Homo sapiens: one gene and its partners. The protein of the gene in region 2 interacts with the protein of the main gene of each other region in a pairwise test. Each region holds a gene or a part of one and is shown on either strand. Other genes may lie near its edges. The genes, in order: CTBP2, NEK6, NIF3L1 and GRIP1.

Region 1 (7,026 bases), on a different chromosome or scaffold from region 2:
CCAGGGGTAGGGGACCCCAGTTACATCCCTGTGGAAAGCAGTTATTAGAGGGAATTAAAAGATCTTGGGTTTGGAGCTTGTTTTGAACCTGACTAGGTGGTTTGGGTTTAATTCTTTTTCCTGTTCAGAAAGATAAGGTAAAGAATACCGACTCCCCCCCGCTCTTTTTTTTTTTTTAACCCCCACCTGACAACCCCCTCTCTAATTGTACCTTAATAAGAGTCTGCAGGTTGAATGCAGAACCCTGTGAGTTATTTACGGTTTCGCCTGGGAGCTTTGAAACTGACCCTTGAATGGGTGTTCTCCTGCGGGGAGGGGCAGGGTGAATTACCTTTTCTTAACTGATTTTAAAAAGCCTCATTGTCCCTAAAAATCATTTCCTTGCACGAGTTGCAATTTATGTGTGGAACTGAATCATCAATTCCGTGAAGAGAAAGATATTCGTAAAGTACATCTCTCTAAAGTTAAGAAAGTAAGAACGTTTGGCTAGTTAAAAACAAACACTACTGCCATTGTAAAAAACACGCCAGTGACATACTTGGTGAGATATTTTGGCCTTTTGAGAGTCGGGGCACACCTGTTCCTGTCCCTGCCAAGTTGTGTGTGCTTTCCCTGCCATTGTTAATCTGGTCGTGTACACAAGATGAAACGGTAAAACTTGCTATCTGTATAATTATTAACTAGTTTGTCAGTTACCCTTTCAGAGAATAATCAATAACTTCAGTCTTAACTTTTAAAACTCCAGAAATTTTACTTTTTAAGTCTGGAAAATGTTTCAAAGAGAGATTAAATGAAACAAACAAACAGCAACAACAAACAACAAAACCAGAAAATCAACCTACAACTTTTTAGTTTCTGAGTAGCCAGCTACAAGGCAAAGAAATGATGAATATATATAGTATGTACTGAACAAGCAGTGCACTGGATTTTAAAATGATATTTTTATTGTTACCATTGCTGTTAAAATACAAACAGCTCACACTATTTGAAATCCTTGAGATTCACGGATTGAAAAAAAACCGAAAAGGACACCTCTGAGTGAGGGAGTAGCCCTGCTGAGATCTAGCACCAGAATGCCATTTGCCAACAGTTCACTAACATCATGAATCATTTTTGAAAGCAAAGTTATACCCTTTGCACTTAACGCTTTCCCTAAATGGAAAAAATTTAAAGAGTTTACAGCAATGGTAGAATGGCAGCCCCAGTTGTCATTTTTTTACCACTGTCATTTCCATAGAGAGGGGCTGTCATCATAATGTATGTGCATGCAGCCTGGGTCCCTCTGTTAATCTATCAGGGAAAAGCAGCAGCCCTAGTGTCCTGTGGCCCTGAATCAGGCCACAAATATATATTCATACAGCACATGGTTGGGAAGGGAAATTTATCAGTTGGGCAGGGCACAGCTCAGGTAATATTTCCACTTTGGGATGGTAGGTCTGTTACACAGGGTGGAACATATTTTTGTAGTAACTAAAAAATGGGAGGGCAGTGTGTCTGTCCCTGGAAAAAGAAGTATTTGTACTTAATGGAAGTGACCCATGTGGTGAAATCTCGGGGTGTCTTTTCCCCAGCAATCTTTCTATGAATTGCTAGGGGAGGAATGCTTGTGTGAACTTACCCTGCTGAAAACTTTTAGTGGGCACATGAAATGCTGGAATGGATACACTTTTAGAGACTGTGCGGCCTGGCAGATATCAGTTTTCTCCCTTACAGCTGGTAAGCATGTCTTAATTTACGCTGCTGCAAGTTAAAGTTACAGCACTCCTGGAAAGAAGGGAAAATGCAAGGCTTCTCCTCCCCACCTCATCTTTTGAAGTTAATTTTCATTCAAGTCTGTGTTTGATGGAATATGTATCAAAGACTTATGAAAGAGTTTTTTTTTTTTTAATCCTATCTTGGGGTTTGGAAAATTATATTTAATAATTGCTAAAAACTTAAGAACCATTTTAAAGGTGTTCAGTGGCCCTTTTGATCATGATTTAATGGAGAGTATCCAAAAGCCATCAGTGTGACTCTAATGATATTCACAAATTAATGTTTGGGCATAATCTGGAGTTTGCTTTTAGCTATCATTATTAATGTTTAAAGCCTAAATTATGGCTGCACTTGGGCATTCAGAACTTCGCCTGTGAAAAGAAGGGCTTTGCACATTGTGTAAAAAAAAAAAGGGGGGATTCACAAATGAATACAGAATGTACAATAGGGAGAGAGCCAGGCCATTGTTTGTGTGGAATGTTGACCATGGGAGCCAAGGGCTAGTTTCGCCTTCATTCTTCTGACTGCTGGAGAACACAGAAACTTCAGGAGCTGTGGACGGGATGGGAACCAGGGGCACATTCATCCGTCTTTGCCGGGCATGGAGATTTGGCCTGCCCCCTTTCCAGAGTTTTTCTTAGAAGGTGGTCTTTTCTGGACTGCTAAGGAACGTCGTGTGCTTTCTCTTCTCAGTAATCTGCTTTTTTGAGGAACGATTTTAACGGCAGATAGTAAGAGTTCCTCAAGGAAAGTAAACAGACCTTTTCTACCCCCTCGAAATGTGATTTTAGGAAATGATATTCAACTTCAGAAAGGAGGCATCTTAAGTCACAGGAGGAAGTTGTGTTTATTTTTACTCCTCTCCTGACTTTAAAGTAGTTTTTAATCTGTTGGTAGCATTAGGGAGAATGCAGCTAAAATAAGTTTTTGCTGGATGTTCATGTTTTGCGTAGCTGCTGCCATTTCGGAAAAAGCTCCTCCCCCATTCACAAAGCCCTTCTCCTTCCACGTGGGAGCCGAGGTCCCAAAGTGGAACCAACTCTGTAGCTTAAGGGAGGTGCATTCCTGGCCCCTCACTTTCTAACCCTCACCTTAAGTGGAATATGTAGATAATATGTAGATCATTAACCATTGTTGGTGTCTGAAGCCTGTTCAGTTTTTTTAGCAACGACACTCGGTGAGAACCAGTTGTAGTTTGCATGTGTATATGCCTAGTCCCTCCCTCAGTGAATGTTTTAGAAAGTGATCTGCTTTAGCTGTTTACCTAACTAAATTTAACAGATGGTTGCCTAGAGTTGGCTTAATATTCACAAAAATTGTGATGAAATGGTTGGGATCTTATGAATGGGACAAGTGATGATTTTGTTTCTATAGAGAATTGTGACTTTTGTCCTAGGTAATAATAGAGACTTCGTTTTTCCCAAAGATCGGTTGGTGTTTAAAGGATGGGAACCCTGAATAGCTGCTGTTGTCTGCCCCTGATCCTGGTGGTGGCCAGCCTTGCCTTTGGTTTTGTTGCCTTCTGTGAGTCCAGAAAAGCCCTGGAGGCAGGGGTGAGGGGGGAGAGGGAGGGCTGGGCTTTTCATCCGTGGGGTTCTAAAAATCCTTCTCATTTATAAAATACAAAAATACTTACCTTCCATTGTATTGCTGATTTGTGCTTCCTCCAAAGCTCTCCTCTGATCAGCAGAAATGTGCTTCTTGCATTAAAACAAATCCTTAATTATGACTAAAAGAAACTGTCAGCTGCCTTAAAGATTGTCTGGAAATAGTGGCAATATTTCTGTGTCTCATTCCAGCCCACGTTGTGGCAGAAGCCTGGAAGGGCCACGTTAAAGGATGTGTCACAGAGACAGTGTGTGTAGGTCTTCCTGCAGCACAAGCAAGCTCAGGGCTTGTAAAGTCCAGCTTATCGTGGCTGTGCTCCAGCCATGCCTGAAATCTGGCCTCCAGCAATCTGTCCCGTCCCAGGACAAACAAAAACTTTATTATGGAGTCATGGAACCTGAGGAAGTTTCTCTGGAAGGAACCGAAGACCTAGACCGTGGAGGGAGATCAACTCCTCTGGCCTAATGGGGCTTTTCTTTTTCCAAGATGGAATTTAAAAATCTCATCTATAAAATGAGGCTAGCAAAGAATCATTTTATGGTGTAAGTGGCCAGAATCTAACCTGGAAGTGATAGTATTGTACCTGCCGCAGGTGTGTGTGTGGCAGCGGGAGGGTGGAGAGGGGAAATGAGAGGAGAAGAGTTTGGAGGGGAAAACAGAGCATTCGAGGTTTCTCTGCTGGAGGGGGTGAAAGGCCAGGAGTTTGTGCACCTTTCCTTTTAAATGAGCTCTAGCTGTGAGTTTATTATTTTGCTGATGGATGGTCTTTCGTGCAGTCTAGAAGTGCAAACACAGTCGGCTTATCCGCTGCTTGTTCAGGTCCAGGGAGACCAAGGGAACGGGTGGGGGCAGTGCTTGCAAATCCATCTGGATCCTGGACACCCCACTTGGTGTTGCTGCAGCCAGCTCCCAGGCCTGCCCACCTGGAGTACAGCCAGCGCCAGCAGCGGGCAGGGCCCGAGAGAGCTCTTAAAGCCATGTCCCAGGAACGGTTGAGGGAACTGAGAATGTTCAGCCTGGAGTGGAGACACCCCTGGGAAGCCCAACATTGTCCTCTGTGCGGTCATGTGGCCTTACTCTGCTCGGAACAGGGAGGCCTTGCTGTTGGAGCTGCCGGGCCAGATGGGCTGCGTGGGCTCCTGGCACAGGCAGAACTTGGCTGACCATTGGCTCCCAGTGCCAGCCAAGGCTCTGCAAACACCCGAGACCCTGATGGAGACTCAGGCTTTGGGAGCACCTCCTAATGAGCTGGGGAGGATACTGTGTTTTCTTCCCAGTGGGGGGTGACCAATAATCTTAAAGTTTTTTCCCTTTCTCCAGACGTTCAGCTGTGGTCCGCACTCTGGATTGCTCTATCTGCCCTGCGGACTGGATAGAGGCTCAGCGTAGATGCCCAGCTGACCTGACATTTCCTACCCATATTTCCTAGTGTTTCAGGAGCAGGCAGAGACAGACCTGATTCCTTTATCTCGGGGCTTTCAGATTACGGAATAGAAGTCACACTAGGAGGGCAATCAATAAAGAGTATATTTTGCTGTACAGATACCAATATGCACATATAAGTGCCTACAAGTAAAATCTGGGAATGTTTTTGATCTTAAAAACATTTCACAGTCATTAATCTTCACGACGCTCCTGCGGGCTGGGTAAATAGAGCAATTCCTATTTTATGCCAGGAAGAAATATTGAATTGCCTCCCCCAAGTCATAAAGAGGCTGTTTTTCCTCCTTGTTCCTGTGACTCGCGGTGTGGGGGGCCTGGGGCGCCTGGAACCCCTGCGATCCGCTCAGACTGACTCCAGGACGACTTCCGGTGTCCTGCGCGACCTTCTGTTGCGGGGAGCGCCAGTCCGCCACACCTGGCCGCGCTCTACCTGGAGGGGGCGGGGTCTCCTGCATTTCCCGGACCGCGGGGGTGCCCCACCCTGCTGCAAGGACGGGCCTCCTGGCGTCCGGGCTTCTGGGGTCCCGGGGTCCCGGGGTTCCTGGCTCCCGAGCCCCAGGTGAAGCCCCCTCCATCCCTGGGGTTCGCCCCTCTCCTCCCGGCGGGTGGACCTGGAGGCCCCGCCCCCGCGGGCCAGAACACCTGGCGGCGCGGCCCCGCCCCAGCTGTGCCCTCTTCCCCCCGCAGGGCACTTGGCGGCCCCACCCTGGCCCCTCCGCGGGCCGCGGTATCTGACACCCCCGGGCCCCCCCACCTCGCGCCTCGCCTTTACACTTGTAAATGGAGCCGCTTCCCGCCGCGGGGAAGTCGTTGAGAGGTGTGAGAATGGGCCCTGCCCCCTCCCCCCGCTCCGTGCCCACTTCCTCCTTCCTCCCGCTGGCCTTTGTGCTGGGCGGGGCCGCTCGGACCCGGGGCGGCGGGGGTCCAGCTAGACGCCGCCTCAAGCCAGCAGGGTCGCCGGCCCCTCTCCGGTCCGCGAGGCCCCGGCAAGGTAGGAGCCTCGAGACCACGCGGGACACCAGGTTGGCCCCCAGCCCGCACTCGAGGCTCAGAGCAGGGGCGGGGACCTGGTTGCACCAGGCCAGAGCCGCCTCCACCCCGCAGCGGTCGCGGACTCCGGGCACTCATGGGGACTCCTGGGGTCGTGGTGAGTGGTGAGGTTCGTTGATTGACTGCGCGATGGTGGCTGAGTTGCAAGCAAACGGTAAACAGCGGCATCATTTCCACTTGACCGGCTTGGGATCTCGTCTCCTGGGCAGTGTTTGGGGGTGACCACGGTTCTTGGATAACCTTCGAATCTGGGTGTTTTCCTTGTAGTACAAATAGCGCAGTGGCAGTTGCTGTGGGAAACAGCGAGGGCCACTGAGACCTTCAGCAGAACTCCACGTCGAGGACGAGTGACATTTGCGCGCCTCTGCTGCGTTCTCTGCTGTTCACCCCGGCGGCTCCCAACACCTGAAGCCTGGCGAGGCATGTGACTAGAGGTTGTCCGAGCGCAGAGTGGTAGGACGGTGCGATCTGGCCCGTTTCGTCTTGCCCTCGTCTTCTCCATGGAGGAATTTCTGTGTTCGCCTCTATGTTTTGCAGACTTAATTTGGTGCTCCAGAAACTTATGCAGCCATTCAAGTGCGCTCTACCTGTTATTCAAGTAACTAGAGAGCAACCATTTCTTGAGCACTTACTTAGTGTCTGGCACTAGCTCGCTGGGCCATTGTGTGTTGTTGCGTTGCCCTGACTCTTCATTGGTAAAACAGTGACTAACTATCACCTGTGCCTCTGCGAGGACAGCGCTGTGCTTGGCCAGGGCTGGAGAGCCGATCTCAAGGCAGGTGTCTGGCCTTTTCCTGGACATAGTGAGTCTGTGATCCAGAGTCTGACCCACGTATTCAACGGGGCCTGCCTCAGGCTTCCAAACAGGAGCCAGGCTGTTGTGAATATTCACTCCAAAAGTGCAGTGAATGTAAAACATCCTAGAGCAGGAAGTGAGGCAGGCCCCGTTGAATACGTGGGTCAGACTCTGGATCACAGACTCACTATGTCCGGGAAAAGGCCAGACACCTGCCTTGAGATCGGCTCTCCAGCCCTGGCCAAGCACAGCGCTGTCCTCGCAGAGGCACAGGTGATAGTTAGTCACTGTTTTACCAATGAAGAGTCAGGGCCAGGGAGCTTAGGTAATTAAGTCTGGCTAGTTACTACCAACTTCGCCTGGCTCTGGCTTCT
Region 2 (7,026 bases):
CTTCTACAGATCACAGCCCGTTTGGGAGTTTGGAAAGTGGGGCCATGATGTGTCTCACCTACAGGTGATCAATGTCTGAAGACACAGAACACCATAAAGGTCTGTGCGAGTGAAAGGTGTTAGCTCAGAGTACAAGTATTTTCTCTGCATGTTTCCCCAGGAAGACGGGGCAGGGACCTCATCTGATTCCTGTGTGTTTCCCCAGGGGCCAAGAAGGCATGTGGTGCTCAGCCGTCCCTTGCTGAATGGCATCATGAAACCTGGTCACAGGGCTTCCTCATTTCAGGGTCCCAGTGGCCAGCTCAGGGGCGGCCCAGCACCTGGTGTGCCCATCACCCCTTGGAGAAAACCACAGAATGTTTTCCAAATGCCACGCTGTCACCACTAGGCTGGCTCCAAGAGCAGGCGGCTCCCACACTTGTCCCAGCGTCTGCACAGACAAAAACCCAGTCCTCATTTCCTCTTGGGTTAGGTAAGGAGGCTGGCATTTAAAACACACACAAAAGGCCACTACATTCCCGGAGGAGACGAACAAAGGAAATGTACACACACTGACTCAGTCCGGCACGCCGTGCCCACTCGAGGTCCTGTTGTAACTGAATCCAGGCGGACTCGACCGGACCTGCCAAGCCCAGGGGCGGACTCCCTCTCCTTTGCTCTCTTCTGTGTGCCATGTGGTGCCCAGTGATCCTGCCATCTGGGCACCCACGCTGGTGGCCCGCCAAGGCCACATCAGCTGCAGAATCTTTCCTCTTTCAATGCTGGGTTTCCTACTTTCTAAGATGGGGTGTAATCTGGGGTCCTGCTCATTTGCCAAAAAGTCATGTCTGTGCTCAGAGGTGGCTTGGTTAGCCTTTCCTCAAAGCAACCCCAAAAGATATGCCCTCTAAACAAAGTGTGTGCTTGGTAGAAAATGCAGCTTTAAGACACAGCACTGACCCATTCCAACCCAAAGCCCTCCTATGCAGACATGTGGGAGCTGCCTCGGCAGGGAAGGGGCATAGGAAGGAGAGCCTGTAACTCTGGGAGGTAGAGCCCTTCTGGGCTTAGGTTCCTCCTCATTGGAATAATTCGAGGATGAGCATTTCTCTAAGAAACCTCTTCTCCCAGGGAAGGGCCAGCTCAGCTCAATACAGCCCTGCACAGCCCACTGAGGGGAGTGAGGAACGTTTGCTAACAGATTCGTTCACTCCATATAAACATTCTCCAAGGATCCGGCCGCGTGCCTACTTAAAACTTCCCATTCACTCAACAAATATTAATTGAGCTCCTCCTATGTGTCAGGCACAATGCTGGCCATGGAGAACACTGTTGTGGTCCACAGACCAAGTCCCATCCCCTTCTAGAGTGCATGTTCAGTCTGTGAGGCAGGTTACAACTATGCGATGACAAGACGGATGCTCAGGGGCCCTGGCATGGTACCTGGGTGCACACTGTTCCTTCCAGCTGCCTGGGGGCCCTCACACAGGTCCTGAGCTGGGCAGCTGGTCACTTCCTGAGGGCACATCCTGGTCACTTCCGGAGGGCAGCCTCTGTCCTCCAATTTTCAGCTCAGACCCCCATGCTGTGGGTGTCCTCACAGCACTCAGGCTGATGCTCGTCAAGCACCACAGATCCTGGACTCTCTGGGTCTCTGTTTCCTCATCTATAAAATGGGCAGAACGATACCCACATCACGGCATCACTGGGAGGATGAAGTGAGTTCCCTCAGGTTAAGGGTTAGATTAGAACATGGCCCACAGTAAGTGCCTGGTAAGGCCATCTACCGACAGGAGCAAAGGCCAAAGAAGCAGGAGGAAGTTCCACAGCCCCACCTCTCACCCACCGGCCCCACCTGCCTCTCCACCTTGGGGTCTACCTGCCCTTCACCCCAGCCCTCTCAGCCCTCTGGCAAACCCCACGTCTCCCTCCAGGTGGGTTCAAACACCCCTCACTGCCGGAAGCTCTCCTACTTCCCCAGAGACTACATCCCAAAAAATGCCACCTGCAAATTGATCAAGAGCACCTAAGAAGGGGTTGTGACAGCCTCTGTCCCCACCAGGTGGTGAGAGGCCAATGGGTGGGGCCATTAGAGGGTCTTCGTGTGGGCTCCCAGCACAATGCCTGACCCAGGACTTCCATCCGGACATACGTCATGAAAGAATGAGATAACGTGCCACACACCAGCCAGCACAAGCATCTCTGGTTAGCAGAAGGGAGTCCACTTAGCCCATAGGACAATGGACGGTCTGTGTTTTTGCATCAAAACTTTTCACCCGCAGTCCAGGCCCAGGTGTCACAACCAGAGCCTTGACCTGAAAGCTGGGACAGTGATCTGATTTAGGCTACAGAGCAGCAGGCTGCATGTGGGACCTGAGGCTGGTCATGATGTCTCTCTGGGCCTCAGTGTCGCCATCTGTAAAAGGAGAGGTATTTTTTTTTTTAAAGCAAGACAAACTTGTCTTTTTTTTTTTGAGACGGAGTCTCACTCTATTGCCCAAGCTGGAGTGCAGTGGCGCCATCTCGGCTCACTGCAACCTCCGCCTCCTGGGTTCAAGTGATTCTCCTGCCTCAGCCTCCTGAGTAGCTGGGATTACAGGCACACGCCACCACGCCCAGCTAATTTTTGTATTTTTAGTAGAGATGGGGTTTCACCATATTGGTCAGGCTGGTCTCAAACTCCTGAGCTCGTGATCCGCCTGCCTCGGCCTCCCAAAGTGCTGGGATTACAGGCGTGAGCCACCGTGCCTGGCCAAAACTTTTATGTTTAACATTTTTCTCAGATATATTTAACCACTTTAAAGCAAACCGCTGGATGGGATGTATTACAATCACAATGTTGTGCAACCACCACCTTCATCCGGTTCCAAAACGTCTGCGTCACCCCAATAAAAACCCATGTCCCTTAATCAGTCGCTCCCCAGTCTCCCCTCCCCAAAGGCCCTGGAAACCACCAATCTGCTTTAGGTCTATGTGGATTTATCTATTCTGGCTACTTCATGTATCTTAAAATGACTCCTATGCAAAACCTCCTTATGTAAAACAGGCAACAGGCAGGTGGCTTTGCCCCCTTCGCCTCCCCGGAGCTCACGTTCCTCATCCTTAGTGGCCTTTCAGGGAAAGCTCTGATGCCAGGTGCCATTCTTTGCAGAACTCTTTTTTTTTTTTTTTTTTTTTTTTTGATACAGAGTCTCGCTCTGTTGCCTAGGCTGGAGTGCAGTGGCACAATCTCAGCTCACTGCAGCCTCTGTCTCCCAGGTTCAAGTGATTCTCACGCCTCAGGCTCCTCAGGCTCCCGAGTAGCTGGGATTAAAGGTGTCCACCACCACGCCCAGCTAATTTTTCGTATTTTTAGTAGCGATGGGGTTTTGCCATGTTGGCTGGGCTGGTCTCAAACTCCTGACCTCAAGTGATCTGCCCGCCTCGGCCTCTCAAAGTGCTGGGATTATAGGCATGAGCCTGTCCTGGTCTTTGTGATTTTTACACTACCTTTTTTGTCACATGGTACCTCTTAGCAGAATTCTAATCCTAAAGTTGAATTTCTAAGGCAGATCACCCCCAAGGGTGCCTGAGGATCACGGGGCTGGTGCCTGGTGTTACTGGCCCGTTTTCCGGATGAGGGAGTAGAGGCTGGGCCCCTGTGAAGCCCTCCTTGCATGAGGTGACTACAGAGGAGTGGACCTCCAGAGCCTGGTGACACCCTCTCCCACCACACAGACTACAGCTGGGTCTAGGGTGTGACGAGCTGGCAGAGAAGCCGCCCCAGAGCGATAGCCACTTCCGGAGGACAAGGATCTCTCCACCGGCTCAGGAAAACAAGCCAGTTTAAGGGAAACCCAAATGGCTTTGGGGGGCGGGGGCATAAAATGTGCAGGACTCCCTCAGGCCTTGCCATGCAGACCTTTTCAGGAGGACTGCCAGGGGAAGACGGCTGCTCACTTCTGCCCCACGGCCAGGCCTGTGACAGCCGCTCCTGTCAGCGCAGTCCTCTGCGGGGCCGACGCTGTGTAAATAATTAACAAAACATCTGCCTTGCTTCATAACACACCGTGGCTGACACAGCTCTCAGGGCCTTCAGAGACCCTCCAATGCCACGCCGAGGACTTATGGCCTCGCTTTGTGGGGACAGGTGGGAACGAGAGCAGATACTGACAGGCAAACATTTTCCTGAGGCGCCACAGGGCCACCCTGGTGCTTAAATCCTGCCTCTTTGCAAACTGCGCTGTCTCCTTCCCTTCCGTTTTGGGAGCCATGATCCTAGGAAGGTGCTCTGGTGGAATCCAGAGGGGTCCCCGGCACCTGCTTCTGGCCTTGTTTAGGGCCTCAATGCAGGGGCACTGGAGACACTCTGGGCCACGGACCAAGGGTCCCGGCTGAGTGACCCTGGGTGGGTCCTTGGTCATTAAAGATTTTCCATGTCTCTCATGTAATCTTGGGGAATGAGCATCAAGCACTTAAAAGGCGCTGAGCATCTGAAATGCATTATTTCACTTACTTCCTCCCCCGAAGCTTCTGAGGTCATAATATTATCCCTGTTTTCCAGATGATGACGCTGAGGCTCAGTGGGCGACGTGCTCATGAGAGGCAGGTCTGGGACTCCAGCCTCATTCACTCCATCGGGTGCCCAGGCTCAGGCTCTCAATGCGGCTGTGGGGGAGCGCCTTGCTCCCTCTGAGCCTCAGGTTCTGTTCCGTGAAACAGATGGGTGGCAAGAGTCCTTCAGACTCCAAAAGTCCACAATAAATAAACCCAGTGCTCGTCTCAACCCCAGTGGGTGTGTGCGAAGCTCTCTGGATTGGGAGCCCAGTGAATTCCTCATCAGCAGCTTGATTCATTAGAGCTGAAGGTCATGTGCATCCATCCTTTTGCAGGTGTCTTCCCAACAAGCCCAAGTTTCAAAGACGTTGAGGACAAGGAACAAGAGAGGGCAGGCATTCGAGAAGGGGCCTGTGGACTAATTCCCATACTGCCACTCACCTGCAGTAAGAACGCGCCTCTGGAACATGGAGAAGTTCTTCTTAAAGGGATCTCTGTTCACCCAGGTCAACATGACCCACCCCGCAAGCCTCAGCCTAATTCTGAAGCATGAGGGTTAAACAATTCGGGGAAAATGCAGGCACTGCAGGCTCTGAATGGCAACTTCCCTCCCCCTTCCCCTGTCCAAATTCCTTCACACTCTATGGAATTCCTACATAAAGCCCCTTTTTTCTTAGAATTCTATGAGGTCACCACCATGCAGATGTCTAAGAGAAAGAAAGAACGGCTCCGTGCAGATCCAGGCCACTGCAACTGAATGCATTTCAGATCTCGGCCACCCCATCTTTCAATTCCCATGGCCCCCCCACTCGCCCAGCCACAGCTACAGCGGTGGTGGCCAGTCAGGTCTGGTGGGGTGCTGTGATCCTGCCCTTGCTGGAGGCCAAGAAGGCCTGGCTAGAAGACCTGTGCCTTTACCACCAGATCACCCGAGAAGTCATCTGTGGAAAAATCCAGAATTGGAGACAATGGCGCAGCCATGTATGTGGGGGTCTGTTTCCACACAAGCAAGTCCTGTTAGAGGGACACATGTCAAAATGCTAGCTCCCACTCCAAGTTCAAGTTCCCAAAGTTAACATCACAGGAAATTACACCACCAACTGATTTGCCCCAATGTCGGCTCCTCTGTCTGGAAGTCGAGTCTGAGAAGGCCATTGGTTTAGTTCAGCTTTGGCCAAAGGAAGGGACCAGCTCAGACAGGAATGAGTGAAAGTGCTGGCCTGATTTTTTTTCTTTTTAAACTAACATTTTCCCCAAAAGTTATCTTGCCATTACCCAAGAGTCATAAGTGAAAAGACAGCCAAATACCAAAAAGCCACTGAGGCCCTCAACAGTGCCTGCTCATTTCAAAGCCATTTCACGGACAGCCAGGGGGTGCCTGGGCCACCGCAGACCACCCCTCACTCCAAGAGCACTCCTGCTCCCCAGAGCTCCATGTTCCATGTAAAGTTCCACGGCATGTGCACACCACTTCCTAAGAATGATGTCAGCAAAAAAAAAAAAAGATAAAAATGTGGAAAAAAGGACTATTTTTACCTCCCCAAATCACAGGCCAGACGGGAGAAAAATCCATCAATGCCAGAAATGTGGCTGAGCCTTCGCACAAGATCTATTATTTCACACCTTAAATTAACGCATCTCAAAGCAATTTGCAAATGTTCGTCAATTTGCAGAACATACATGGAAGGGAGAGAAATACCTTTTCCTTTCAACACCGAAGGACACTGGCAGGGGGGCACAACATGGCCCAAACCACACAGGTCCTCACACACAACATTCATTTCAAGCACATGTAGTAGAAGCCGTGATCGAAATGGAAATGAGCAGGGAAAAAAGGCAGGCAGGGGACTTAAATGACAAGTGACAAGAAGCCTACCTACAAGCGATCTCGCTGTCAGATATTTAGGACTGTGAGTCAGGCCCGTGAAGGTGACATCAGGGGGCCAGAACACCGGACTCTTCCTGCGAACAGTGTCCCAGCCTCATCTCCACACAAGCCTGGCAGTGCCTGCCCGTATTTAATCTTGGATGATTCACCAGGTCCCTCCACTCTCCACCCTCCAACTCCCTTGCTTGGTCTAGCCTGAGAAGAGGAAGGAAATATTCTTCTCCTTTTGACAATTGTTTTGACACTTCCCTTATGAAAAGTATCTGGGGCACTTAAAGAAAAGAAAAAATGTGAACAGCAGCCCTTTCTCTCCAGTAGCTCTGGCCCTGGGCGAGGAAGGCCAGCAGTGCCTTCTGGAAGACCTCTCCCAGGTCTCGGGCAACCCAGCCCTGCAGGAACCTAGCCTGTCTTAACCTACTTGGCTTTGCAGCATGCAACAGGAGCAAAGCACGACAAAGGCAGCCAGATGTGGTTTAAGGTGAGGAACTCTGGAATCAGAGACATGGGTTCGAATCCCGACTCTGCCATTTGTGGGTTTATGACCCTGCCCAAGTTACTTAACCTCCCTCTCTGTAAGATCAGGAAAACGACACTGAACCTCAGCACAGGCCAGGCATCCAGCC
Region 3 (7,026 bases), on a different chromosome or scaffold from region 2:
AAGGGCTTGGTGAGAAGCCTCTTTCATATTTGATATTTTCCCTGCAAATACTTTGAAACTTTAGGATGTCTTTCCAGTAAAGTTTTAACTGCTTTAGGGTTGGGGAGGGCATGATTCCATTTTTATATAATAATTTTAAAATAATGTTGCTGAAATTTGGCAGTTAAATTGCATTTGAAAAAGGAAACATTTTTTATTCTTATGGAGTAAGGAGAGCAGAAGTCTTCCTTACTGGACTGAGCTTCATGATTCCTCACTTTTGTGGCACAATGCCTGTCACCCAGGCACTTGGAAAATGCTTGTTGAATTGAAAGCTCAGGCCTCTCCAGAATACACTTGATTGATAAGTCAAGTAAATAGACATCAGGGTTTTAATGAATGTTTTTAGTGAATGTTTACTTATGCCTAGCACAATGAGGGAATGATGGATGGATTTTAGCTTTATTTTAGTAAGTCTTTAGTTTACTCATTTTGGGCTAAAGCTTTTATGATGATATCTGGATTAATGTGGTCAAATAAAGTATGAGCATTTGCAACCTGAATGATGGTTTACATGGCTAGATTTACCAAGCAGTAGACCATTCTGTGTATTATCTGAAAATGTATGAATCAGTCTTTCTTGTCCAAGTTTTTCAGAGATTTAAGAATCTTTTGGAAAATAATTCTGAAAATAATTTGATTTTGTATGTCCATGCCAAAGCCCTAGATTATGGGGACTGGTGATGTATATCTAAGGGATGTGTGTATGTTATGTAAGCATGAGAATGAATCTTTTTAAAAAGTCATTTCTTAGAAATTTTGCCTATAATAGTTTACTTTTAAATCTTAATCTCTCACCCCCCAAAACTCCCATTTTCCCACAATATTTTCTCTAGGAGCTTGTACCTCCAGGCCCATACATCCTTCCAAAGCTCCCAACTACCCTACAGAGGGAAACCACCGAGTAGAATTCAACGTTAACTACACCCAAGACCTGGACAAAGTCATGTCTGCAGTGAAAGGAATTGACGGTGTTTCTGTCACTTCTTTTTCTGCTAGGTACAATTTATTTTTCTCTTTTTTTTGTGTGTATTTATTGGTAAGCATCTTCCTTACAAAGTCTATAACCCTGGTATTTAGGCTTGAAACAAATAGTTTTCTCTGGAGTTGATTTACAAAGTAGCATACTCCTCATTTGTTTGTGGGTCCTGGAGAACTATGGAATTTTTTCAAAACAATAAAAACGGTAAGTAACACTAAGTATTTTCTATGTCAGGGGACTATACTATGCATTTTACCTACAGTATTTCTAATCCTGGTAATGTTCAAAGATAGTTGTTTTTACTTTAGAGAATACAGATAGATCCTAGTGATGTGGTGATAAGGCTTTTATTGGTTCCCAGCAAATCAGTGATTCCCAAGTGCTTTTTTATATTTATCTTTACATTTTAAATATATATTTTCATAAATCAGTCTTTTTATTTAACATCATGGGAAATATTTTTCTGAATAGTCTTTTTTTGTTTGTTTTAAGAGACTCCCAGGCTGGGCACGGTGGCTCACACCTGTAATCCCAGCACTTTGGGAGGCCAAGGCTGGTGGATCACCTGAGGTCAGGAGTTTGAGACCAGCCTGACTAACATGGAGAAACCTCGTCTCTACTAAAAATACAAAATTAGCTGGGCGTAGTGGCGCATGCCTGTAATCCCAGCTACTCAGGAGGCTGAGGCAGGAGAATCACTTGAACCCGAGAGGCGGAGGTTGCAGTGAGCCGAGATCGCGCCACTGCACTCCAGCCTGGGAGACAGAGAGAGACTCTGTCTCAAAAAAAAAAAAAAAAAATGCAGATTTTTGTATTCACCTCAGACCTTATAATTAGAATGGAGTTTGCCTGAGAATCTGTCCAGGACATTCTCAAATTCAATGATGTTTTAAAATTATCATCTCTAAGGCTTTAAAAAAATTCATTTTGCCCCAGCCCCATTTGTAGATGTTCTGTTCACTGGTTCTGTGGAAGGATCCAGCAGCTGTTATTTTAAGAAGCTAGAAGGAATTTTTTTTATTTTTTTGAGACAGAGTCTCACTCTGTTGCCCAGGTTGGAGTGCAGTGGTGTGATCTTGGCTCACTGTAACCTCCGCCTCCCAGGTCCAAGTGATTCTCCTGCCTCAGCCTCCCCAGTAGCTGGGACTACAGGCACCCGCCCCCCACCACGCCCGGCTAATTTTTTTTGTATTTTTGGTGGAGATGGGGTTTCATCATGTTGGACAGGCTGGTCTTGAACTCCTGATCTCAGGTAATCCACCTACCTTGGCCTCCCAAAATGCTGGGATTACAGGTGTGAGCCACTGTGCCTGGCCTTCTTTTTTTTTTTTTTTTTAACTTTAATTTTTTAATAATTAAAAAAATAATAAGATAGGGTCCTGCTATGTTGCCCAGGCTGGTGTTGAACTCCTGGGCTCAAGTGACCCGCCCACCTTGGCCTCCCAGAATGCTGAGATTACAGATGTGAGCCACTGCACCTGGCCAAGAAATTTCTGATGCACAATCGGGATTGAGAACAGTTCTTGAACAGTGGTTTCAAAGTGAGGTCCTTGGACCAGCAACATCAGCATCACCTGGAACTTGTTAGAAAGGTAACCTCTCAGACCCCCACCTAGATATAATGAATCAGAAACTCCAGGGGTGGGGCCCAGCACTCTGTGTTTTAATAATCCTCCAGGTGATTCTGATGCCCAGTAGAGTTAGAGAAATGCTATTCTAGAAAATGGATTAGTTTCAGATTAAATGGGTTCTGTTGGTTAAATCCTTGGTTCCACATAAATCTAATCTATTATAGTAGGTTTGTAAACTGTGGATTATCTAAAATACATTTTGGCTATATTTGTCCTAAATGGAGTGATTTTTCCCCCCTAGGACTGGTAATGAGGAACAAACACGGATTAATCTGAATTGTACTCAGAAGGCTTTGATGCAGGTGGTAGATTTTCTTTCCCGGAACAAACAACTTTATCAGAAGACGGAAATTCTGTCACTGGAGAAGGTAATAAGAATATTTTGTATTTGATCTTAAAATACTGTGCACACATTTTCTAACAGTATAATTGAGGTATAATTGATATACTTAGGTATATTGAGGTATACCTTATTGAGGTATAATTGATATACTAAGAATTGTACATATTTGATGTGTACAATTTGATGAATATCATTACTTTGCATTTTTCTTCAGCAAATTCATTTGTAAATTATTAGATCAACAGGCCATTCACTGTTATCTAAAGTACAAAATGGCAATGAGAGCATAATATTCTCTAGGAAGTAATTGAGAAAGGGAGACATTCCAGGAACAGGAAAATATTGGTACGTCTTCAGGGTTACAGATTTGGTTACAGGTTTGCTGTCTCCTTATTTTACACGCTCTGCCTGGACCATGTCATTCACTTCTTTAACTTGATAGCCATTTGTATGATGATTTCTATCTTTACTTTTTGGCTTAGAATGCTTTCTTAAGGGAAAAAATGACAAGAACCCATATTTTCATCTACTTTCTGGATGTTTTGCACTTACAGAGCCCACAAGTATTTCAAATTCAGTATATCCAAATACTTTATCCGTTTGCCACCCCCGCTTTTTTTTTTTTCCATATTTCATATTTCAGTATCATTATCTACTTTAGTTTCCAAGTTTTCACATTCCTCCTTGACTCCAGGCCCTGCTGAGTCTGGCCTCATATCTATACAGTGTTTCTCCTCTGTATTGGCTCTGCCACCACAGTAGTTGAAACTCTCATTTTCTGCGATGAGAGTAGTCTCACCGAGCACCTAGGAGGCAGTCCAGGCTCTTTAGCATGGTGTTGGAAGCCCTTAATGATCTGCTACAGCCTGGGCCTCCAGCCTCCTCTCCTTCCACAGCATGTACTCTGCACAGTAGCCATACTGTCTTCTTTTGGATCTGCCCCCATAGTGTGTTCTCTCAAGTTTTTGGCACCTTTGTCCATGTCCTCTGTGTTTAGAATGCCTTTCTCCATCTCATCGTACCTCTGTCCTGCCACACTGCACTTGACATCACCCCTTTTTAAACTCTTTATTTCCCCCTTTTTAACTCTTTTAGGGTTTTCTCTAAGACCTAAGTCCTTCCTCCAAGTACTCCCCAAGCCTCCTAAGTCACAGCTCATTTAGTTTGTCATTCTTTGTGCTGCTGCAACTGTAGCACCTACCTTGTATTTAAACAGTTTTATTATTTTGTTTATTTGAGACAGGGTCTGGCTCTGTCCCCAGGCTAGAGTGCAGTGGTACAATCTCAGCTCACCACAACCTCTGTCTCCTGGGTAGCTCAAGCCCACCTCCCATTCAGCCTCCCAAGTAGCTGGGACTGCAGGCGCACGCCACTGCCTGGCTAATTTTTGGATTTTTTTGTGGAGATGAGGTCTCACTATGTTGCCCAGGCTGGTCTCAAACTCCCGAGCTCAAACAATCCACCCACCACAGCCTCCCAAAGTGCTAGGATTATAGGCATGAGCCATCGCGCCTGGCCTGATTATTGATTTAAACATCTGCCTTCCTAGAAAACTGTGAACTCCTAGAAGAATGATTTTGTCAGGTTTGTATCCCCACATTTAGCCTGGAGCTTGCTATAGTAATCTCACAGTGTGCATGTTGATGATTTTAGCATTTGTTGTTTTAGGACTAACAATGCACACCGTTTCTAACTTCTGTTTCTCCTCAGCCTTTGCTTCTACATACTGGAATGGGACGGTTATGCACACTGGATGAATCTGTCTCCCTGGCAACCATGATTGATCGAATAAAAAGACACCTAAAACTATCTCATATTCGCTTAGCCCTTGGGGTGGGGAGAACCTTAGGTAAATATAGCTCCTTCATCTATCCAGTATGCCTACTGTTAACATTGGACAAAGATCGAAACTCTTGGTTGTATTAATATGTGATAGAGAATGTGTTAGCAGCTCATAGGAGATAATTGGTTTACGTTATTGATTAGGGTGGGCCAGGTTCTGATGTGGAATACATCTCATTGACTTAATCAATGAGATTTATTTCTCTGTCATGCTATGTGTTCATTTCAAGTTGGTCATTGTAGGAAGTCTGACCATTGTAGACTGGTTGCTGTTGCAGAGGGAGGGAGTTTTGCAGGGTCTTAAACCATCAGTTTAAAATTCCAGGAAACATGTTAATTTCTGCTCAACTCATTTTCCAGAATTAGTCATGTTGCCCAATACAAGCAAGGGAGGCATAAAGTGCAGTCTTACCATGTGTCAGGAAGAGAGCTGGAATCATGATTGCTACAATTACAACATAAACTTTGCACTTATAAGACTGGTAATATTTTCTAGTGAGGTGCTACTGAGTGATCTGATCCATTGTAGTTTCTAAGTCTTGTAGTTTTTTCTTCTGGCCTTTCCTGGTACTTTTGAGAACAAAAAGAGTGAACAGACATTTGTTCAACACCTTCAGTGAGCCTAGCACTGTACTGATTGTCTGTCCTAAGTACGTGAGCTCCTGCTGGCAAAAGCAGTGGGGTACAGCGGTTATAGGTGTGGATTCTGAGCTTAGACAACCTGGCTTCAGATTTGTCTGTCCTGTTTGCTGCATGTCTTTGACAAGTTTATGCCCTCTGTGTCACAGTAGCCTCATCTGTAAAAACTGCATTAATAAAACCTAACTCAGAAGGTGGTAGTATAATCCATGTGACATGGCACAGTGATTGGCTCACATTAAGTATAAAGTGCTAGCTGTTGTTAGTTTTGTGGTTGGTACTATTTCTCCCATTTTATAGGTGAACAATTGTGGTTCAGAGAGATAAGTAACTTTATTAGTTCGTTCTCACGCTGCTATGAAGAAATACCTGAGACTAGGTAATTTATAAAGAAAAGAGGTTTAATTGACTCACAGTTCTGCATGGCTGGGGAGGCCACAGGAAACTTACAATCATGTTGGAAGGCACCTCTTCTCAGGGTGGCAGGAGAGAGAATGAGTGCAAGCAAGAGAAATGCCAGATGCTTATGAAACCATCAGATCTCGTGAGACTCACGCATTATCACAAGAACAGCATGGGGGAACTGCCCCCATGATCCAATTACCTCCACCTGGTCCCGCCCTTGACCCGTGGGAATTATGGGGATTATATTCAAGGTGAGATTTGGATGGGGACACAGAGCCAAACCATATCAGTAACTTATCTAAAAGTCCAGTTAGATCAAACAACCCAAGGGAGTTAGTGTCCAAAGAAAATGGATAGCAGAGGTGGGATTTGACTTCCAAAATAACTCCAAAGCCCCCTCTTTGAGATACCCTGCTGCTGAACTGGAGTGTCCACTAAAGTGTTCATTTTAGAAACCCAAGTGCTAAATACTTGGATTTTGGCTCGAAAGTTGCTGTTATTTCACTTTCCAGAGGATGCTTTTTGAGAATAAATAGTATATTTAAAAATAGTGCCAAATCCATTTGTAGCATTCCTCTTTTTATAGTCCTTTTAGTTCCTTAGCTTCCTCACCTGAGAATAGAGATAGTACTTGCTTACCTCTCACTGTTGTCTGAAGACCCAGGTGAGATTATTTTACCTAGCACTGTTGCAATACAGCCTAGAGCTGCACCATTAGTACTATTCAGTGGTTTGTGAGTTTGTGCAGCCATGTCCAAAGGAATAACGGTGCCCCCTTCAGCAGCACATATACTAAAAATTGGATGATATAGATTAGCATGGCCCCTATGCAAAGATTACACGCAAATTTGTGCATTGTTCCGTATTTTGCGCAATTTACAAAGGTTGTTGAAAAAAAAAAACACAACAAAGGAATAATAACCATGCCTTGGGTTAGCTATGCAATATCAAAGAATGACCTGTTTGCTTATATTAAAACATGTTTTTTTTAAAATGCAGTAAGAACAATTCATATACTGGTGATGAGACCAGGAGTGAAATCTGTATTATGTTTAGGATTCTTGGTACAAATTATAATAGTAAAATGAAAGGGAATTGTAAAGTATTGGTCTCTTGTTTCCTCTGTTTTGAAGAGTCTCAAGTCA
Region 4 (6,903 bases), on a different chromosome or scaffold from region 2:
AAGCAACAGCATGCAAAGGAAAAGAAATGTAATAGTTAAATGAATAAGCAAATAAATGGGATCTATCAGGTATATTTTGTAACAGAAAGATTTATGAAGTTGAAGAAAGTGCAAATTATTTTAGCACTTTAATCAAATTGATTCTAATGATATAAAATAGTTGAGTATTTGTGGGATTAACCTCATTGTTTTGGTTTTTTGCAAAATGAATTTCCAGGTTTAGGCATATGGCAGAACATTTTTGGTTTATGATGATTCTTTCTTGTTAAGAATCAGAAGAACCTCCAAACAGCGCTATTTATTTTTGGGATGGAGATGTTATATAAAAGAATGAATACAATGGCGGAGAATCAAGGAAATGAGAAAATTAGAATAAGATTATGGGGCTATGTGTGCCACCTGCTGATGAAGCTGTGGAATGCTTTGGTTTTGAGACTATATTGGAATCTTTGAGCCAATCTTAAGGTTTTGTTTGTCCATACACCACAACCCACCCCCTTCTTATGATAAAATTAGTACCATATTGTCAATGGAGGTGATATTCCAAATATTTCAAAACCAGCATGACACAGGCCAGTCAGGATGGGCTAACCATGCAGTGAGAAGGGATTCCTGTAAACACTTGATACGTAATGGTCTTTCACCAGACGGTACTTGCCTTAACTGTCACCTGTTTCTGGTTCCTTCTGGTCAGGGTGGTCCTAGAACCATGAGCTGTGCTTCAGAGGGGAGAAGGTGATAGGCACTAGTTTTTCCCTCTGTCAAAAGATAACTGCACTTAAAGGTACTTTGTTAATTGAATTTGTCCCCCTGTAAACTAGATCACATTTTGTATTGGTGGCAAGGAAGCAGTGAAAAACAAGAGGAGAAAGAATGATTAGCCAGGGGTGAGAAGCTATGGTTCTTTCCTGTTCTTTACCACTTACTAGCTGAATGACTTTGATGAAAAACACCTTCTCTGAAACCAGTTTTCCTTTTCTGCATCAAAAACCTATAACAGAGTCGCTCCATGATACATTATGTGTGAAAGTGCCTTCTAATTCATTAAATTCTATGTAAACGTGGTACACTTGTATTACACCTTAGCAAAACTAATGTTTTAAAGAAACCCTGAAATAAGAATTATCATCTTAAGGGACTAGTCTGCCCTGAATCCAGCAAACCCATGTTTTCATGTATTGAGGTGTTTGTGTTTTTAAGAGGGGTAAACCTCTTGAACTAGCTCACTCACTCTTCTTCAGATCACATTGGGGCTTAATCAAATCTGTATTTTGTACAATTTTACCTGCCTTCTTTTTCCATAACCCCTACTTGGTGACCCTCACAGAGCATGTTGTAAAGTTTGAACTGTCTAGACAGCTGAGCCACCATAATTAACATGTTCATGACAGGTCCCAAAGACACATGCTTACATTGATCTGGTAGCCAAGAAATGTAGGTCACTCTGCCTTGTAGTAGCTCATGTTAGGAGCCTGTGGTCCACATTCCACCGGTTGCCTTGGCCATTTGAGACCTTCATCCTACAGATCGATACATTTTGAGATAGAAGGCTTGCATTGTTGGAAGGCATTTTACCAGTGCTAGAGTTCAGGATGGGAGGCTAAGCTTGCATTAGGCAAAGGGAGGACAAAGGGTTTAGGGCAAGAAGGTTGACCTGGGAGTGGCTCCCCAGGAAATCTCCAAGCATTAGCGAGGCCAGAAATGGAAGAAGATGGGAATACCTGGTGAATTCGTTCATTTTCTGGAAAAGAATTACTCCAGGAGGCTCCATTTCTGTAAGATTCCTGGGGCTGCACCTGGGCAGACTAATAGGATAGATATGGATTGGCAGCCACAGTATTCAAAGAGAGAAAAAACAATCCCCTAGTTTGGGCTCTCAGAAACCTTTCAAAGAGCTCCATGATGGGTTATTTCCCCTGCCAAAGAAATAGGACATTTTAGTAGTTCTGAAGACCTTTCTTGGGACCAGAGGATAGAGCTTTTAAAACAAAACAAAAAAAATAAGCATATTAGGAAAAGGGGAAAATATTTGATCATTTTAGTCATAAGGAAAAAGCAAATTGGATTTGAGTCTGCAAAATAGCAGAAGGCAAGAGATTCCTGTATGGTTTTGAGTTGTATTTGAATAGACTGGGCTGGGGTGGTGGTGTTCCACAGGCAAGATTCTACTAATAGTAATTGACAGCTGCGTATTCTGAGTGCCTGGATTTTAGGAAATATGTTAGATTTGGAGAAGAATCTTGGAAAGAGCTAACTGTAAGTATTTATCTCACTTTAGCTAGTAACTCAGTTCTCTAGTACTAAGGTATATTTCTATTTAAAGCAAAAAAATATCAAGGAGGCTAAACTATTTCTAGGGATAACCTAATAGAGATGAACATAATATGGGTTGAAATTCAAAGAAAGATTTATGCTAATCAGAACAATTATAAAAATTTGATTTTGCACTGCAGTCCATTTAATATAGTATTTTCTATTGATTAGTGGTTGCTTTAGCTAGACCATCCTTGGTAAAAGAATTCTGTTCTTTTCAAAAACCTTTAAAGTAGATGCTTATGATATTCAGATGTTTTTCACACACAAATTATTTTTCTATTGGACTCAAAATACAAAGCATATGCATTTCAATAGCAGTGGATTGAAATTGTTTGAGTTCATATTGAATTTATGAATGAAGAAAAGAAAGTTTTACCACTAAATTTGGAATGTTGGAAGTTATTTTAAAAACCAGCTTGAAAGTTTTTTCACAGCCTGAAGAGTAGAGAATAAAACTGTATGAATAATTCATAAAGTCCTAGAAATATTAATCAAGTAGTTTAGACAGTGATATATCTTTTCATTTTGACTAATTGATTTTTTTTTTCTTAAACTTCCTGGCCAACTGTCTAATTTTTTGTCCTGAATGTTTATGTTAACTCCTGTGGGAGAATTCTGGATTTTGATTAAAATTCCCTACCAAATGTTAGTTCGTATTGACTATATGGCGAGCAGGCTGCTGCTGGCAGATGAGGAGGTGTGCTCCGCCTTCTTATCACTTTGTGAATGGATTGTGAAGGGTTTGTTAATTTGCTCTTCACTCCATTGGAGCAGATACTCACAAATATCTGCTATGTCGCAAGACCGTTTTATTTGCATAATGAGAAGAATGGTTTGGGGGATGGTTGTTTGGGAAATAGTATAATAAAGTATATTAAAAATAGAAATACTTGGCCTTGTTTGCCTTTATTTCTGGTATCTTTAGAAACAGTCTTGACTGTGTTGCTTTCCAGCCAAGTCCTTTTTTGGAAGGGTGATTAAAGGGGCTGGGACTCCATCTGCCTGATTGTCTGCCTAGCCCTAACCCTTTCTTGTATTCCCTCTATAAACAGACACTGCCTTAACTCTCATAGGTTCAGGAAGTACCAAAGAGGTCTCTGTCCTAGAGCTGCTTCCCCGCTATAGGCAGAACTGTGATTCTTTCCTCAATCCCAAATATAAACGGCCCTCCCTCTTTTTCTTTCCTTTTTTTTTTTTTTTTTTTTGGTTGTTGTTTAAAGAACATAGTACATGACCCATGCATTTCTTCCTAAAGTAAGAGTGTAAGCATTTCACTTGCATTTCCCATTAAATGAGACATATAAAGGACACTGACTTGATGCTGAGAAGGAAAGGGGCTGATGGTGGCTGAACTGACTGGATACATCGCCTTTTGCCTTAAACAGAATGCACTGTTCAGTGCTTAGCGTTAGATTTATGGAATGGCTCCTCACACAGTGTCGTCCCTGCTTTGTACAATTTGGTGCTTTGTTGCTATCGAAACGGCATTACTTTCTAAGCCATTGTGATTGTGAAGGGGGAGGAGGCTGTGGCAGGCAGGGGTGGTAGTAGTAGTGAATGACACAGATTTGCCAGATGACATGTAGCGGACCTCTGCATCAGCCAAGAGGAATTAAGCTTTGTCACTCCCCACTGGGACTACCTTTCTCCTGGTATGTGCGCAAGGAATTCATATGCTGCTGCTGCTGCAGCCACCAGAGCAGAGAGCCTTGAGTACACTTTGCCACAGAAAGCAGTGAGCAAGAATGATAGCTGTCTCTTTTAAATGCCGTTGTCAAATTCTGAGGCGACTTACTAAAGGTATCGTGCTTTCCTTGTTATTCCCTCAGCGAGTCTGTTGCAGTATCCTATAAACACAGTTTAATGGTTTTTACTTTCAAATATGACTGCCTTTGCAATTTATTGTCAGGCAACAAAGAACTCAGTGAAATATGTATAGATACATATGTACAGGTAGACTCGGCTTTGCTTTCTGTCCTTACATCTCGGTTGTGTTCGTGCTGAAATTATGAAAGCAGCTTGTGTGATTTTTTTTTTAATGACTTCATTCTTTGCTGAAAAGAGAATGTGTTTGGGTCCGGTGCTGAAGTTATTGTGGGAAACCGTCATTTTGCATGCTGATTAACTGGCCAAAAGGAGTCAAGTGTGTGTTACTGTCCTTTCTATGATACATATACTAAATGCAGCTGGCAGATTCAGGACTCGCACAGCTGGTGGATCCACAGAATAATTGTTTGTTCTATGACTTTCCAACATCTTAAGAGCTTTTTCCCTGGACAGCTTTAATTTCTTTATGTGTTAGAATTGCATGTTCAGAAAAGTATGTAATTCCAAATGCTTTGGTCCTATGTAATACTAGAAGTTTATTTGAAAGTAAAAATCATTGCTCGGAATCTTATCATCAAGAATTACCAGCTTCAGATTGTCACTCTTAGAACTCTAAAATAGTAATTAAATTTCTCTGTAATATTTAAGGTATTATTTTATTTGAAACCATTCTGGATGTGCCATCTCGTTTACTTTGTGAGCATTCTATTGCAAAGTTAGTAAATGGATGCCTTAAAAATCCTGCCTTGTGTCCATATAGATATGTGAGCTCTCTTGCCTTATTTCCTTTAGATAGAACCTTCCTTAGAGAAAATTTATTATTTAAAAAAAAACTTCATTCTGAGTAAAAGTATTTAGTTGCAAATGCCTTTCTTTTTCAGCCTGTAATATAGAGTACTGTTGAGTAATTAATGGATATAATTATGTTCTAGAAGCTCTGAACCTATAAATATGTTAATGGATGCTATTTCTGTCAGTTTAGCTTGACATATCAGAATTCTTTGATCACCAGCAGTGCAGCTAAAAATGCAATTAATATTTTATCTGGCAGAAGAATGAGCACAAAGCAAATCATGAGAAATAGATCTTGAGTCAATAACAGGAAAGAGAATAAATACTGTAGACCAACTTACCGAATGCATTTGCAAGTTGTTTGGATAGCAGAGTGAGTCCTTTAAAAGGTACTTTGGGGGAAATGTAGGGAAGATTATACATTTTAAATTAGGCTATTAGCAGGAGGCTGTAAATTCTGTTTTGACTTTATCCTCTACAATTGGTACAGACGTACAATTTCTGTTTATAAATCATGACTAAGAGACTATCCTTTCTGTTACGGTTTTGGCTGAGACTTTTAAAGGCAGGCCCTTATTCTGAAAAGTTCTTTTCTGACCTGATTTTGGCATTTACTTATCTTGATGTTGAGAAGTTGATGGTCTTCTTACATCATAAACATGAAACAATCAGTATTTTCTATTCATCTGTATCAGTTCTTTTATAAGTACTACATACAAGGAAGAGAGTGAACCCAAGCAATTTATAGTTCTTACAAATATTTTTAACTTTCTCAGTTTTCTGAATTTTATGGAAGCATTGATCTCCTGCATTGAAAGGAGATTTAAGTGTTTACTAAGATAGTCGCTAAAAATCTAGATAATTGAGGAAAGTATTGATAACTGCTTTGGAGTTGCTACCTCACACTTTTTTCCAAAATCTTTATGTCTGCTCTATTTGGTATTTAACTTAAGACTGTCAGTTGATGATTAAAATAAAATCTCTTTGCAGAATCAATTTGCCATAATTGGGTTCTTCTTTGTGTTTAACTGGCTGTCCAAATACTTACAAGAATGCACCTGAGTAACACGGTACCTTGCCTTGCCATCTGCTTCAGTCTTGTCCAACAACGTTCAAGTTCCACCCATGCTTCTTGTTCCAAAGTGGATTCATTGAGTTCTAGCACCCCACCCATACTTGTGGTGCTGTTTTCTTAAGCTGTAATGATAAAACCAGGAAACATATGTAATTACAATATTAAAATGACCTTTCTTTTAGGGTCAGGAGTGTATTTGGGGACAGGGGTGGATATACACTTGAAGTTTCTTTCTTGTCCCATTCTCCCTACTCACACAACTCCCACACCCTCACCCTCAACTCCCAAACATACATATTTCTTTATACCCATTGAGGGCTCCACCTAACACTCACTCTTCCAGACATTTAGCACAAGGCATTACACTTAGTAGGCACTTCAAAACTGTTTGTTAAAATGAATTGGATTTGTCTAGTTGAAAGTAGTAGGGCATTTAAATCTTCTGTGAGCTCTTAGGAAATGCTTCAAGAGCTTTATTAGGCCTCTTGTGGCTAAAACCTTACCCAGATCTTAGCAGGGGGAAGTTTGCTTCATGACTCCAAAACTACCTTGCTATTTGTGGTTGATATCACCCACAAGAAAAAGCAATATGGCAATTGCAATTTCTTCTTAATTTTCTTAAGGAGAAAATGATGGAATAAAAGGGAAACAATTTTCTACAAACACCCACATTCTTGATATTTTTACTTGATTCTTACATTCTTCATATATCTAATACATACTTAACAAATATCGATTAAGTACCTACTATGTGCCAGACACTGACATTTTTGCACTTAGAATTCTGGGCTGGGACAATTTATAGGTGTAAAAAGCATTTTTAAAATGAATATATTATTGAACAATAAATATTTTTTCTTTAGGTCAGATGTAATTTTAAAAGATGTATAAAA

What was found.
Region 1: the proteins of NEK6 (region 2) and CTBP2 interact in binary tests that used the Homo sapiens proteins (3 or more experiments, as listed by UniProt).
Region 3: the proteins of NEK6 (region 2) and NIF3L1 interact in binary tests that used the Homo sapiens proteins (3 or more experiments, as listed by UniProt).
Region 4: the proteins of NEK6 (region 2) and GRIP1 interact in binary tests that used the Homo sapiens proteins (3 or more experiments, as listed by UniProt).

What each region holds. Positions count from the first base shown.
Region 1 is NC_000010.11:125,150,545-125,157,570, reverse strand, and holds part of CTBP2 (C-terminal-binding protein 2), read left to right. Parts: intron 1-5,289; exon of another isoform or gene 5,290-5,365; intron 5,366-5,736; exon of another isoform or gene 5,737-5,797; intron 5,798-7,026. UniProt on the Homo sapiens protein: Corepressor targeting diverse transcription regulators. Functions in brown adipose tissue (BAT) differentiation. Isoform 2 probably acts as a scaffold for specialized synapses.
Region 2 is NC_000009.12:124,260,949-124,267,974, reverse strand, and holds part of NEK6 (serine/threonine-protein kinase Nek6), read right to left. Parts: intron 6,882-7,026; exon of another isoform or gene 6,807-6,881; intron 6,508-6,806; exon of another isoform or gene 6,392-6,507; intron 5,060-6,391; exon of another isoform or gene 5,030-5,059; coding exon of another isoform or gene 4,957-5,029; intron 4,951-4,956; exon of another isoform or gene 4,475-4,950; intron 1-4,474. UniProt on the Homo sapiens protein: Protein kinase which plays an important role in mitotic cell cycle progression. Required for chromosome segregation at metaphase-anaphase transition, robust mitotic spindle formation and cytokinesis.
Region 3 is NC_000002.12:200,892,371-200,899,396, forward strand, and holds part of NIF3L1 (NIF3-like protein 1), read left to right. Parts: coding exon 1-9; intron 10-875; coding exon 876-1,038; intron 1,039-2,893; coding exon 2,894-3,020; intron 3,021-4,705; coding exon 4,706-4,844; intron 4,845-7,014; coding exon 7,015-7,026. UniProt on the Homo sapiens protein: May function as a transcriptional corepressor through its interaction with COPS2, negatively regulating the expression of genes involved in neuronal differentiation.
Region 4 is NC_000012.12:66,676,063-66,682,965, reverse strand, and holds the start of GRIP1 (glutamate receptor-interacting protein 1), read left to right. Parts: upstream 1-3,889; 5' UTR 3,890-4,061; coding exon 4,062-4,116; intron 4,117-6,903. UniProt on the Homo sapiens protein: May play a role as a localized scaffold for the assembly of a multiprotein signaling complex and as mediator of the trafficking of its binding partners at specific subcellular location in neurons.